Linked DNA regions of Homo sapiens: all the other regions are linked to region 2. The links come from fine-mapping of genetic effects on gene expression. A gene starts in region 2. Each other region holds a variant in brackets. All regions are shown on one strand. Distances are from middle to middle.

Evidence for each region. PIP is the estimated chance that this variant, and not a neighbour inherited with it, causes the effect.
Region 1: its variant is the best candidate, but not a certain one, in a credible set for the expression of RUFY4 in blood mononuclear cells (TOPMed, PIP 0.86).
Region 3: its variant is the best candidate, but not a certain one, in a credible set for the expression of RUFY4 in whole blood (TOPMed, PIP 0.68).
Region 4: its variant is the best candidate, but not a certain one, in a credible set for the expression of RUFY4 in whole blood (INTERVAL, PIP 0.77).

What each region holds. Positions count from the first base shown.
Region 1 is chr2:218,033,699-218,036,441 of GRCh38, reverse strand. It overlaps a transcript of TNS1 not described here and a transcript of RUFY4 not described here. Among named protein-coding and RNA genes, the nearest start is that of TNS1, 32 kb to the right of the region's middle. RefSeq lists enhancers at 107-196, 1,052-1,584, 1,585-2,118 and a silencer at 1,209-1,258. The variant G/A (reference allele first, on the strand shown) is at 1,384.
Region 2 is chr2:218,067,598-218,070,340 of GRCh38, reverse strand. It overlaps RUFY4 (RUN and FYVE domain containing 4), which reads right to left and starts at 1,088. Exons shown (of 13, transcript NM_198483.4): 1 at 993-1,088; 2 at 783-860. RefSeq lists an enhancer at 476-1,339.
Region 3 is chr2:218,128,493-218,130,992 of GRCh38, reverse strand. CXCR2 (C-X-C motif chemokine receptor 2) reads right to left here. Exons shown (of 3, transcript NM_001557.4): 2 at 1,628-1,679. Among named protein-coding and RNA genes, the nearest start is that of CXCR2, 3.7 kb to the right of the region's middle. The variant G/A (reference allele first, on the strand shown) is at 1,313.
Region 4 is chr2:218,029,410-218,032,152 of GRCh38, reverse strand. It overlaps a transcript of TNS1 not described here. Among named protein-coding and RNA genes, the nearest start is that of TNS1, 28 kb to the right of the region's middle. RefSeq lists an enhancer at 1-504. The variant G/A (reference allele first, on the strand shown) is at 1,712.

The sequences.
Region 1 (2,743 bases), 34 kb after region 2:
TTTAATTTAACCCAGTCGTAGGATGCTAGATAATGTGATTCCTTGTGACTTGGACTGTGAGCCCAGGAAGAACCCTGAGTCTCACTGCCCAACTCTCTCCTTACACAAAGGAGGATGCAGAGCCTCCTTTGTGTAAAGTCCAGAGAGGGAAAGACTTATATCTGGCCACACAGCAAGGGAAAATCCCAGCTCTATTTTGTAGGCCAGGGTGTGAAGATGATGGTGTGGCCTCCACCGATTGAGCAGTCCCTGGGCGACGACACTGTGCTAATTGTTTAATATCTTTGTCCCATTCAATCCCCACATAACCCTGGGAGGCTAGAGGGGAACCTGGGGCACAGAGAGGGTAAGTCTTTTATCCAGCATCACAGAGGTTCCCAGGATTTGAACTCAGGTGTGTGTGCCCACAGGGCCTGTGTTCTGGGCCCTGACTTGGTGTGAGCAGCCCCGTGAGGGTTCATGCCATGTGGACACTAGGCTGGGAGTGTCCCCATGTTCCCCATGGAGGGCCCCCAGCCTCACCCGGGTACTCATCCTCCTCGAGACACCCACTCATCTTTTCCTGGGCCCCAGCTGAATGGAAATGTGTGTTCTTTGAGGAGAGGTTGCAGAAGTAAAGCGCGGCCCCAAGGCTGGAGCTGAGCAGATGCTGCGTGTGTGGGGGGAGCAGGGTGCCTGGTTTTAATACTGCCTCTCTCCTGGGGGATCTCATCCTCTTCTCCTCCCAATGGATCCTGGGGCCCAGACGGGGACACTGTGGCCCTGAGAGCAGGTGGCCTTATTCTGAGATCCTAGAGTCAAGACCAGGCATGGAGCGGAAAACCCAGGTGTCCTGCCTCCCGGGCTGTGGCTGCTGGAGTTTGGGGTGGCGTGGCAGTGGTACAGCAGTGGGACACAGTGGAGGGAAGGGGAGAGGGAAACGGAGGTAAATGAGGGAGGTGGCTGGGGCATGGGATTCAGGGAGGACGGGGTCAGGAGCCCAGAGACCTGGGTCTCCATCCTGGCCTGGCTACACACTCACTGTGTGATCTCGGGCAAATCACTCACCTTCCTTGAGCCTCAGTTTCCCCACCTGTAGACCAAAGATTGGACTGATGGTCTCGGCAGCCCCTTCCAGCCCAGATCCTGTGTGAAATCCATGAACGGCTCCATGTGTCTCCTCCTCTCCCTCGTCTCTGCCAGGCATTTTCCTCCCCTGGCTCCTGGCATCACACTCCTTCTATCCCCGTAAGTTCCAGGGGTCTCCCTGCTACTCACCCAGGAGAGCCTGGCTGGCTGGGGCACGACAGCGCGGCTCTGCTGCCAGAGTCCGTCCCTAGTGACTGCGCAGGGAAGAAGTGGTAGAGGCAGGATCCAGGGCGCTGGGGCAGAATGGTGAGATGG[G/A]GGATGGGTCCTCTCAGGCCCACCTGGGGTAGAGTCACCTGTTGGCCAAATGGGGGCTGATCCATTGTGGTAGCTGGGACTGCTGCTAGTTTCCTTTTCGTTTTCAGCACCTGCTCTTGCTTTTCTTCCTTCTCGCCACCAGGGGGCACAGGGAGGCCATGGAGCTCCGCAGCTGCTATTCCTGTGGTTGTCTCTTCCGTGTCGCTTGGTTGGGCTGTGAGGCAGCGCTCCAGAGTGGGGAGGGGAGGTCGAGGGCCCCACCACGCTCCTCCTTCCTGTCTCCACCTCAGTCAGCTGAGGCGGTCCCCCTGAGTGCTGGTCATCAGTGCCGACCCCCCAGGCCTGATCCCATTCCCAAAAGGATGGATGTGAGACCACCAGTGAGATCCTGTGCGCAGCAATGGGCCGGGCGGGTTTCCCCGGTGGGCTGGGGTCCCCCACCCTGGCTGTGCTCTGCCTCCTTGAGCCTGGGGTCTTTCCATGCCGGGTCCTCGTTTCTCCAGGCTCGGCTGCTCCAGGGGCTAGTATTAGGGAAGTGGAGCAGGGGCCTGGGAGGACGGCTGTTTTCACAAACCCCAGGAACCGCATCTAAAAACCAGCACAACGGATGCCCGAGGGTTTCTATCCTCGGCTCCGTCCTGCACCTATATCCCCCATGCGGAGGCTGCTTCCCCCATCTCTGTCCCTCATCTCTGCCTCTTCCTCATTGTCTGCCTTTATCTTCTCCCTGTCCCTCTGTCACGTTCTTGGTGTGTTTCTCACCTTGCCCCCCAAGTCAGACTGTCTGAAGTCCCTGTCCCAAGGACTCCACCACTGCCGCCCTCCCTTCTCCCCTCCCTGAGGTGGGCTTCCTCACTGGCTGTGTTCGGGACCTGTATTGCAGACCCTTATCAGGCCCCACAGTGGGGGCTCCTGTCGCTGCTGGACATAAAGGCAGGGACTCTGTCGGGGCCAGGCTGGGGTCGTTGCTGCTCGCCTGCCAATGTCGCAGGCGCTCTGGGCTGAGCTGTCGCAAGGGCTGGGGGCGGGCCGGCTTCTGGGGCTCCCGCGTCTCCGCCCCTGCCCGCCGGGGCGCCAGGCCGGATGGGCTGCACTGTGAGCCTGGTGTGCTGCGAAGAGCTGCGGCCCGGACCACTCTGCGGTCCCCAGCCCCCGGGGAGTCCCTGGGTCTCGGCGCGGGCTGAGTGCTGGGAGTCCGGGGGTTTGGCCTGTGCAGAGAGAAGGCAGCTACCGCTTCAGGTAGGGGCTGCGGGAATGGGTGAGGGACGACGCCCCGAGTCGGGAGCTGGCGGTTGGCAGAGCCCAGGGCACCTGACACAGGTTAAGTAGCCAGCCCAGGACGGTGCTAGTCTGCTTGGGA
Region 2 (2,743 bases):
TTGTCCCATTCAATCCTCACATAATCCTGGAGGTTATTAACTCCATTTTAGACCAGGAGAAACAGGGGATTGGAGAGGGTAAGTCTTTTATCCAGCATCACAGAGGTACCCAGGACTTGAACTCAGGTGTCTGTGCCCACAGGGCCTGTGTTCTGGGTCCTGACTTGGTGTGAGTGACCCCGTGAGGGCTCATGATATGTGGACACTAGGCTGGGGGTGTCCACTCCTTCCCCATGGAGTGCCCCTAGCCTTGCCTGGGTACTCAGTCTCCTCGAGACACCTACTCATCCTTTCCTGTGCCCCAGCTGAATGGAAAATATGTGTTCTTTGAGGAGAGGGTGCAGAAGTAAAGCACGGCCCCAGGGCTGGGGCTGAGCACATGCTGCGTGTGTGTGGGGAGCAGGGCGCCTGGTTGTAATACTGCCTTTCTCTCCAGGGGGATCTCATCCTCTTCTCCTCCCCATGGGTCCTGGGGCCCAGAGAGGGACACTGTGGCCCTGACAGCTGGTGGCCTTATTCTGAGATCCTAGAGTCAAGACCAGGCATGGAGCGGAAAACCCAGGTGTCCTGCCTCCCGGGCTGTGGCTGTTGGAGTTTGGGGTGGGGTGGCAGTGGTACAGCAGTGGGACACAGTGGAGGGAAGGGGAGAGGGAAACGGAGGTAAATGAGGGAGGTGGGTGGAGCATGGGATTCAGGGAGGACGGGGTCAGGAGTCCAGAGACCTGGGTCTCCATCCTGGCCTGGCTATGAACTCACTGTGTGATCTCCGGCAAATCACTCACCTTCCTTGAGCCTCAGTTTCCCAACCTGTAGACCAAAGATTGGACTGATGGTCTCGGCAGCCCCTTCCAGCCCAGATCCTGTGTGAAATCCATGAACGGCTCCATGTGTCTCCTCCTCTCCCTCGTCTCTGCCAGGCATTTTCCTCCCCTGGCTCCTGGCATCACACTCCTTCTATCCCCGTAAGTTCCAGGGGTCTCCCTGCTACTCACCCAGGAGAGCCTGGCTGGCTGGGGCACGAGAGCGCAGCTCTGCTGCCAGAGTCCGTCCCTAGTGACTCTGCCTTGCACAGCAGTCCCAGGATTTACAGCCTGGGAAGAAGTAACTCAGTCCCAGCCCAGCAGCCTGGAGGGGGAACCTGGCTCACAGCGGTGGGGGAACCGCAGACGCTGCAGGGAAGAAGTGGTAGAGGCAGGATCCAGGGCGCTGGGGCAGAATGGTGAGATGGGGGATGGGTCCTCTCAGGCCCACCTGGGGTAGAGTCACCTGTTGGCCAAATGGGGGCTGATCCATTGTGGTAGCTGGGACTGCTGCTAGTTTCCTTTTCGTTTTCAGCACCTGCTCTTGCTTTTCTCCTTCTCACCACCAGGGGGCAGAGGGAGGCCATGGAGCTCCGCAGCTGCTATTCCTGTGGTTGTCTCGTCTCTGTCACTTGGTTGGGCTGAGAGGCAGCGCTCCAGAGTGGGGAGGGCAGGGCGAGGGTCCCACCACGCTCCTCCTTCCTTCTCCACCTCAGTCAGCTGAGCGGTCCACCTGAGTGCTGGTCACCAGTGCCGAATCCCTAGTCCTGATCTCATTCCCAAAAGGATGGATGTGAGACCACCAGTGAGATCCTGTGCCCAGCAATGGGCCAGGTGGGTTTCCCAGGTGGGCTGGGGCTTCCCTTCCTGGCTGTGCTCTGCCTCCTTGAGGCTGGGGTCTTTCCATGCTGGGTCCTCGTTTCTCCAGGCTGGGCTGCTGCAGGGGCTAGTATGGGGGCAGAGGAGCAGGGGCCTGGGAGGACGGCTGTTTTCACAAACCCCAGGAACCGCATCTAAAAACCAGCACAAGGGATGCCCCAGCCCGTCTGCCCTCTCCTCCGTCCCTATATCCCCCATGCAGAGGCTGAAACCCCCATCTCTGTCTCCCGTGTCATGTCCCTGTCTCCCATCCCTGTCTTTCCCTCATTCCTTCCCTTTCTCTGTTCCCTGTGTCTCACTTTGCACCCTTGGTCTCTTTCTTGCCCTCCCAATTCAGTCTGTCTGAGGCCCTGTCCAGGATCCCTGCCCCTGCGCTCCTCCAGCACCCTGCCCTTCTCCAGCCCCCTGCCTCCCTCCAGTCCCCTGCCCTCCTCTAACCCCCTGCCATCCTCCAGCCCCCTGCCCTCCTCCAGTCCCCTGCCCTCCTCTAACCCCCTGCCATCCTCCAGTCCCCTGCCCTCCTCCAGTCCCCTGCCCTCCTCCAGTCCCCTGCTGTCCTCCAGCCCCCTGCCCTCCTCCAGGTCTGAGCTGGGAGGCAGGTGTCTGCCAGGGAACCACTCTGCCTGGTACAGGTGTGGCGCTGGTTTCTCCCTGGGAGAGTAAGAGGAGGTGTTTGGCATCACCAGGGATGGGTAACTCCTCTCTAGGTCCCTGTGACCTCAGGACTCCCTGTTGGTGGGTCTCCTTGCTTCACCCCATGTCCCTGCCTCCCCACCTCCCACACAGCCAGCTTTGACACGGATGAGGGGGTGCCTGTTGGGCCAGGCTAGGGTGGGCAGGAGCAGGGACAGTCAGTGGGGCTGGGATGGAGCGAGGTGCCAGGGGCAGTGGAGGTGGATGATCAAGGCGAGAAGGAGGGGAAGGTGTGTGTGCTGGTGTGCAACAGTGGCAGGGACAGGGATGGGGATGAGTGTCTATCTGCATCAGATGAGCTGGTTTCTAAGCGGCCTCTTGGGAGAGCCTGGAGCTTGCCTGTGACTCCCTCCCTCCTCTAACTGTGGGGA
Region 3 (2,500 bases), 61 kb before region 2:
CCAGTGCTCAGCTGTGCTGGGGGTGGGCTGGAGGTGTATGGGTGAGCTCATGCTCCCAGGCATTATGGGTCAGCTTCAGGTTCCAGAGGGAGAGCATGCAAGTCAGGACAGAAGGTAGAGAACTCAGCAAGGAGAACCAGGTCAGGCCAGTGACCTCCAGCTCCTAGGGTAGGGAGAGGGGTGTTTGTTGTTGGTGTTGTTTTTTAGTTTACCAATCTCTACAGAGGATGACTTGGCAGTTAGAGGGACAAACTAAGGGAAGGAGATGACACATCTGAGGTCTGCTTTGTGCCTCACAGGTACATGATCTCCATGGCTCATTACAAATAGATACAATTAGGCCCTGTTTCTAGAAGACTGAGGCACAAGGAGGATCAGCTGACCTAACAGGGAGGCTCAGTAACCAGCCTGCGATCACAGGGTGGAGAAGTGGTGAAACCACTGTTCCAGTGAGGTATAAAGGACTACACTTGCCTTATTTGTAGTCTATAGCCCTTCCTCTTAAAAAAAGTGCACCTCATCTATTAAACATATTTGTAAGCTAAGTTCTCTTTTTCTTTCTTTTTTTCTTTTTTTGATGCAGTCTCGCTCTGTTGCCAGGCTGGAGTGCAATGGCGTGATCTCGGCTCACTGCAACCTCCACCTCCCGGGTTCAAGTGATTCTCCTGCCTCAGCTTCCCAAGTAGCTGAGATTACAGGCGCCTGCCACTGCACCCGGCCAATTTTTGTATTTTAGTAGAGACGGGGTTTCACTATGTTGGTCGGGCTGGTCTCGAACTCCTGACCTCAGGTGATCCGCCCACCTTAGCCTCCCAAAGTGCTGAGATTACAGGTGTAAGCCACCGTGCCCAGCAAAGCTAAGTTCTTGAGATATCATTAAATCAACCTGTATATGGTCCACTCACATTCTTTCATGTTTTATGCATTGTTTTCTTTTGCCGTTTCTTTGGCCCAGAATGAAAGAAACAGCTCTTGCAGGGATGATAAACCAAACACCCTTGAACTGGCTGGGTCCGGCTGACCACACAGTCATATATTCCAGGATAAAAAGGGAGCTTCCTTGACTTAGGGAAAATGCCAGCCCCTTAGTGACTCATGGTAGTTTGGAAACTCCATAGATGATGGCATGAATTCTAATTTATTACATGAAAATGCTATAGAACGAGAGACATTTACAAGATCTCAAACATCTAAGGCAATCTTTTTAACAACAAAAGAGTCATTTTAGTACAGTTCCAGTATTCTTTCTCTCTATAAATATAATCCACAAATATTGCATTTAGTGTCGGGAAGTGGGAAGCGAACAGTGTTC[G/A]GCCCATCCTCAGACCCAGTCCTAGCCCAGGCCAGGAGGGCTGGCTGAGTCTTGGAAGGCTGCCAGGCCAAGGGAAAAGCATGGGCAGCAAGTGGCCCTGAGTGGTTGGAGAGGGTTGTGAGGGAGGAGGAACAGAAGTTCTTCCTTTGGGGATGGAGAGCCCCAAAGGGAGAAAATGAAGAGGCCAAGGGGTGAGGGTGAGGGGCCCACCAAGGGTGGGGAGAGATGCTTAGGATAAATGTAGGCTGGGTATCAAGGGAAACAGAGAACAGAGACATTCTAGCTGGTGGGAAGGGTGGGTGTTCCAAGACTTACTGGGTCGCTGGGCTTTTCACCTGTAGGACACCTCCAGAAGAGCAGCTGTGACCTATGAAAGGGAGGTGGTGGTGAGAACACAGTGGAGGAAGTGAGTGGTAGATTAGATTGCTCAATGCAATTCAGGGGTGGAGCTCCTGAGGGTGCGGGTGATTTTGATAACTTTGAATAATTAGTTCCCAGATCAGCTCTCGGATGCATAGTCATTTCATAGACTCGTAGAGTTTATATTGGGAAGGGACCTGAGGGGTTTTCTACCTAGTCTTTCCATTTTACAGATGGGGAAACTGAAGCCCAAAGGAAATGGCTTGCCCAGGATTGCATGGATTTCTTTCATCTTTGCTGTATCTCAGAGCCGCTGGCTCCTTCAGCTGCCTTGTCTGAGTCTCCTGGCATTCCAGCTGCCTCAGGCTTCCCCATCATACCATTGGCAGTACTATAGCCTTCAATGTCTTTCACATGTCAAAGGGAGCAGTGCATTAAAATGACAGAGATGGACTAAAGCTTCTGGTGAGTCTGGTGGCGTTCCTCCCTGGACCTGATGCCTCTACTTCTTGGCCCCACTCCTGCCTCTTGTCTTTCCCCTCACTCCCCAACCATCTGCTCTGACCACAAGTCCATCTCTGGGTATTGATATTCTTTCTTGTTTCGCACACTTGGCATTGGGTCTGAGGACACCAACTCTGCAGCAGCTTACCACCCTTGGAGCCAAGACCCTCTAATTTGGAAAGAAAGCCTTTTGGTAAAAGGGAAGATTCCACCAAAGTCCAAATGCATTTTTAAAAACAATGTTAAGTGACCCTAAGAATGTATTTTATCAATTTGCTATTGATTACAAATGAATGAATTAATCCAGGCAGAGCCATGAACACT
Region 4 (2,743 bases), 38 kb after region 2:
GTGGCCTCTCTAGGTCCCACAACTGCCCTACACCCTGAGCCCTCCTATGGTCCCACATGTCAGCCTCAGGAGCAAGAGGTTGGGGCTTGGCACCCTCCTGAGTCCTCCAGCCAAGCCTTCTGGGTGCCAAGGGGCCTGGCGGGCATCTCCGGGTGCCAGTCGTGCCTCCTTGCTCTCTGCTGTATCCCAGGACAAGTGGGTGCTTGTGGATGGGGCGGGAGCAGTGGGGAGGAGACTCCTGGCTGCTGTTGCCTCTTCCGTTTCTGCAGTCAGCTCTTCTGGGCTCTGCTTCTTTCAGCCCGGAGAACTACTGAGGTTAGACGTTCTCCTGGGGCCTGGTCCTGCAGCCTCCCCTGCATTCCTGTTGTGGGGCCTGCAACCCTTTTGGAAGTTCTAGGATCTGGTCTGACTCCCTCCCCCATGGGTTGGATGACCTCCTCTTCCTCTCTTTCTTGTTATGTAGAATCAGAGACCCCAGAGCTGAAAAGGATCTTAGTGCTTCTGAGCCTTTTGAGGACACAGATCCCTTTGAGAATCTGATGTAACCTATGGGTGCTCTTGCTAGGGAGAAGGTGCACACACACACAGACACACACATACACTCATACACACAGGCACACACACACTCACACAAGACACACTCATACACACAGACTTGCTCACACACAACACACACTCATACACTCACACACACAGACATGCTCATACACACATGCACACACACACTTATACACACAGGTGCACTCACACACTCACACAAGACATTCATACACACACAGACATGCTCACACACAACACACACTCATACACTCACACACAGACATGCTCACACACCCACACTCATACACAAAGACACACTCACACACTCATACACGCTCACACACAACACACTCATACACTCACACACAGACATGCTCACACACTCACACTCATACACACAGACACACTCACACACATACAGACACATTCACACTCACACAAGACACTCATAGACATGCTCACACAACACATACACACACACACACAGACATGCTCACACACACTCATACACACAGACACGCTCACACACTCACAAACACACACATACACTCACACATATGCTCACATGCTCACTCACATACACACACATACACACATACACTCCCACACTCACACTCATACATACACTCATACACACAGTTCACACACATGCTCACACACATACACACTCATACTTATGCTCACACACTCATACCCATGCTCACGCATACATGCATACACACACGCTTACACACAGTCTCACACACACACTGACACACACAGACACACAGCCACTGTGCAAACATACACAATGTCATATATTTCTTCAAGCCCCACTATAGCCCTGATTTATCCACCCCGTGTATTTCAAAACAGCACACTGAAGACCAGAGGGGGCGTCCTCAGTGTGACTTGCCCAAGGTCACACTAGAAGTGAGTTTCAGTGCTGGGACCACATCCCAGGAGTCCTGGGTCCAGACAAGTGAGGGTTTCATCCCCAGATGCAACTTTTGCTTTCCCCAGAGGCTGCCTGTAAGCCAGATGCGCTTGGCCATTCATTTATTCAACACTGATTCAAGCATTTTTGAGCATCTGCTATAGGCCAGGCATGGAGCTTGGGGCTGGGGATAGGGCAGAAAGCAGACAGCTCGGGTCCTTGCCCTCAGGGGGTTGTCAATCCAGTGGGAGAGAT[G/A]GAACAGACTGCAAACAAGTCATTGAGCTGACTGGAGACAGTGCTATGGAGGCTAAGTTCAGGATGTGATGGGTGAGGATTCCAGAGGGATTGCACCGGGAAGGTGAAGGAAGTGACATCTGAATGAGGAGCTGAAGCAAGAGCAGCTGGGAGGAAGAAGCATTCCAGGTGGTTGGAGCAGCCGACTTGAAGGTCCCAGCATGGAGAAGAGCCGGGACCTGTTATAGAAGTGGACAAAGGCTTTCCTGGCTGCTCCTGGCTCCCCGGGAGCCCTAGCACACATGCTGTGTGTATATGGATTGGGAGGGAGAGAGTCAAAGCAAGGTGCCTGGGAGGCAGGGCAGGCAGGGAGGTGCCCGGTGGTCAGAGTTAGAGACGGTCAGCCAGGGAGAGGGCTGAGTGGGGCCATGACTAACTTGGGAGAAAGGACTGGACATGGAGATGGCTTGGATGTGGACGAGGAGCAGGAGGAAGTTGAAAATAACCCCTCTCATCTCACAGAGAGGGTGGCTGTGAAGGCATTTGTCTGTATTAGTGTGTTGAAATATTTCCTAAACACAGAAAAGTGTACAAACTTCCCACTGACTGAACACACGCACGTACTCACATACTTGGCATGCAGAGTCTAGAAACAGAACAGTGACAGCTCTCAGAATGTGCCTCCTGCCCCTTCCAGTCACTAATCCCCCTTGGAGGGCAGTGCGCAATCCCGACTTCTAACCACAGGGAGTTACTTGTTCTAGAATGTCTAATAAATGAATGGCACTTGTAATCAGTGGAGCACATCATATGTATTCTTTTGTGCTCAATATCATGGTTGTGAACTTTATCTATATTCCTGGGTGTGGTCTTGAGCGTTCCTTCTCATTGCTGGACAGCGTCCCACTGTGTGAAGACACGCTGTCCATTTATCCATTCTGCTATTGACAGGCGTTCGAGTCATTTCTAGTTTTGGGCTACTGTGAGTAGCACTGCTAAGAACACTTTCATGCATGTGTTTTGAAGATCATGAAGCCAGATTTCTGTTTGGTA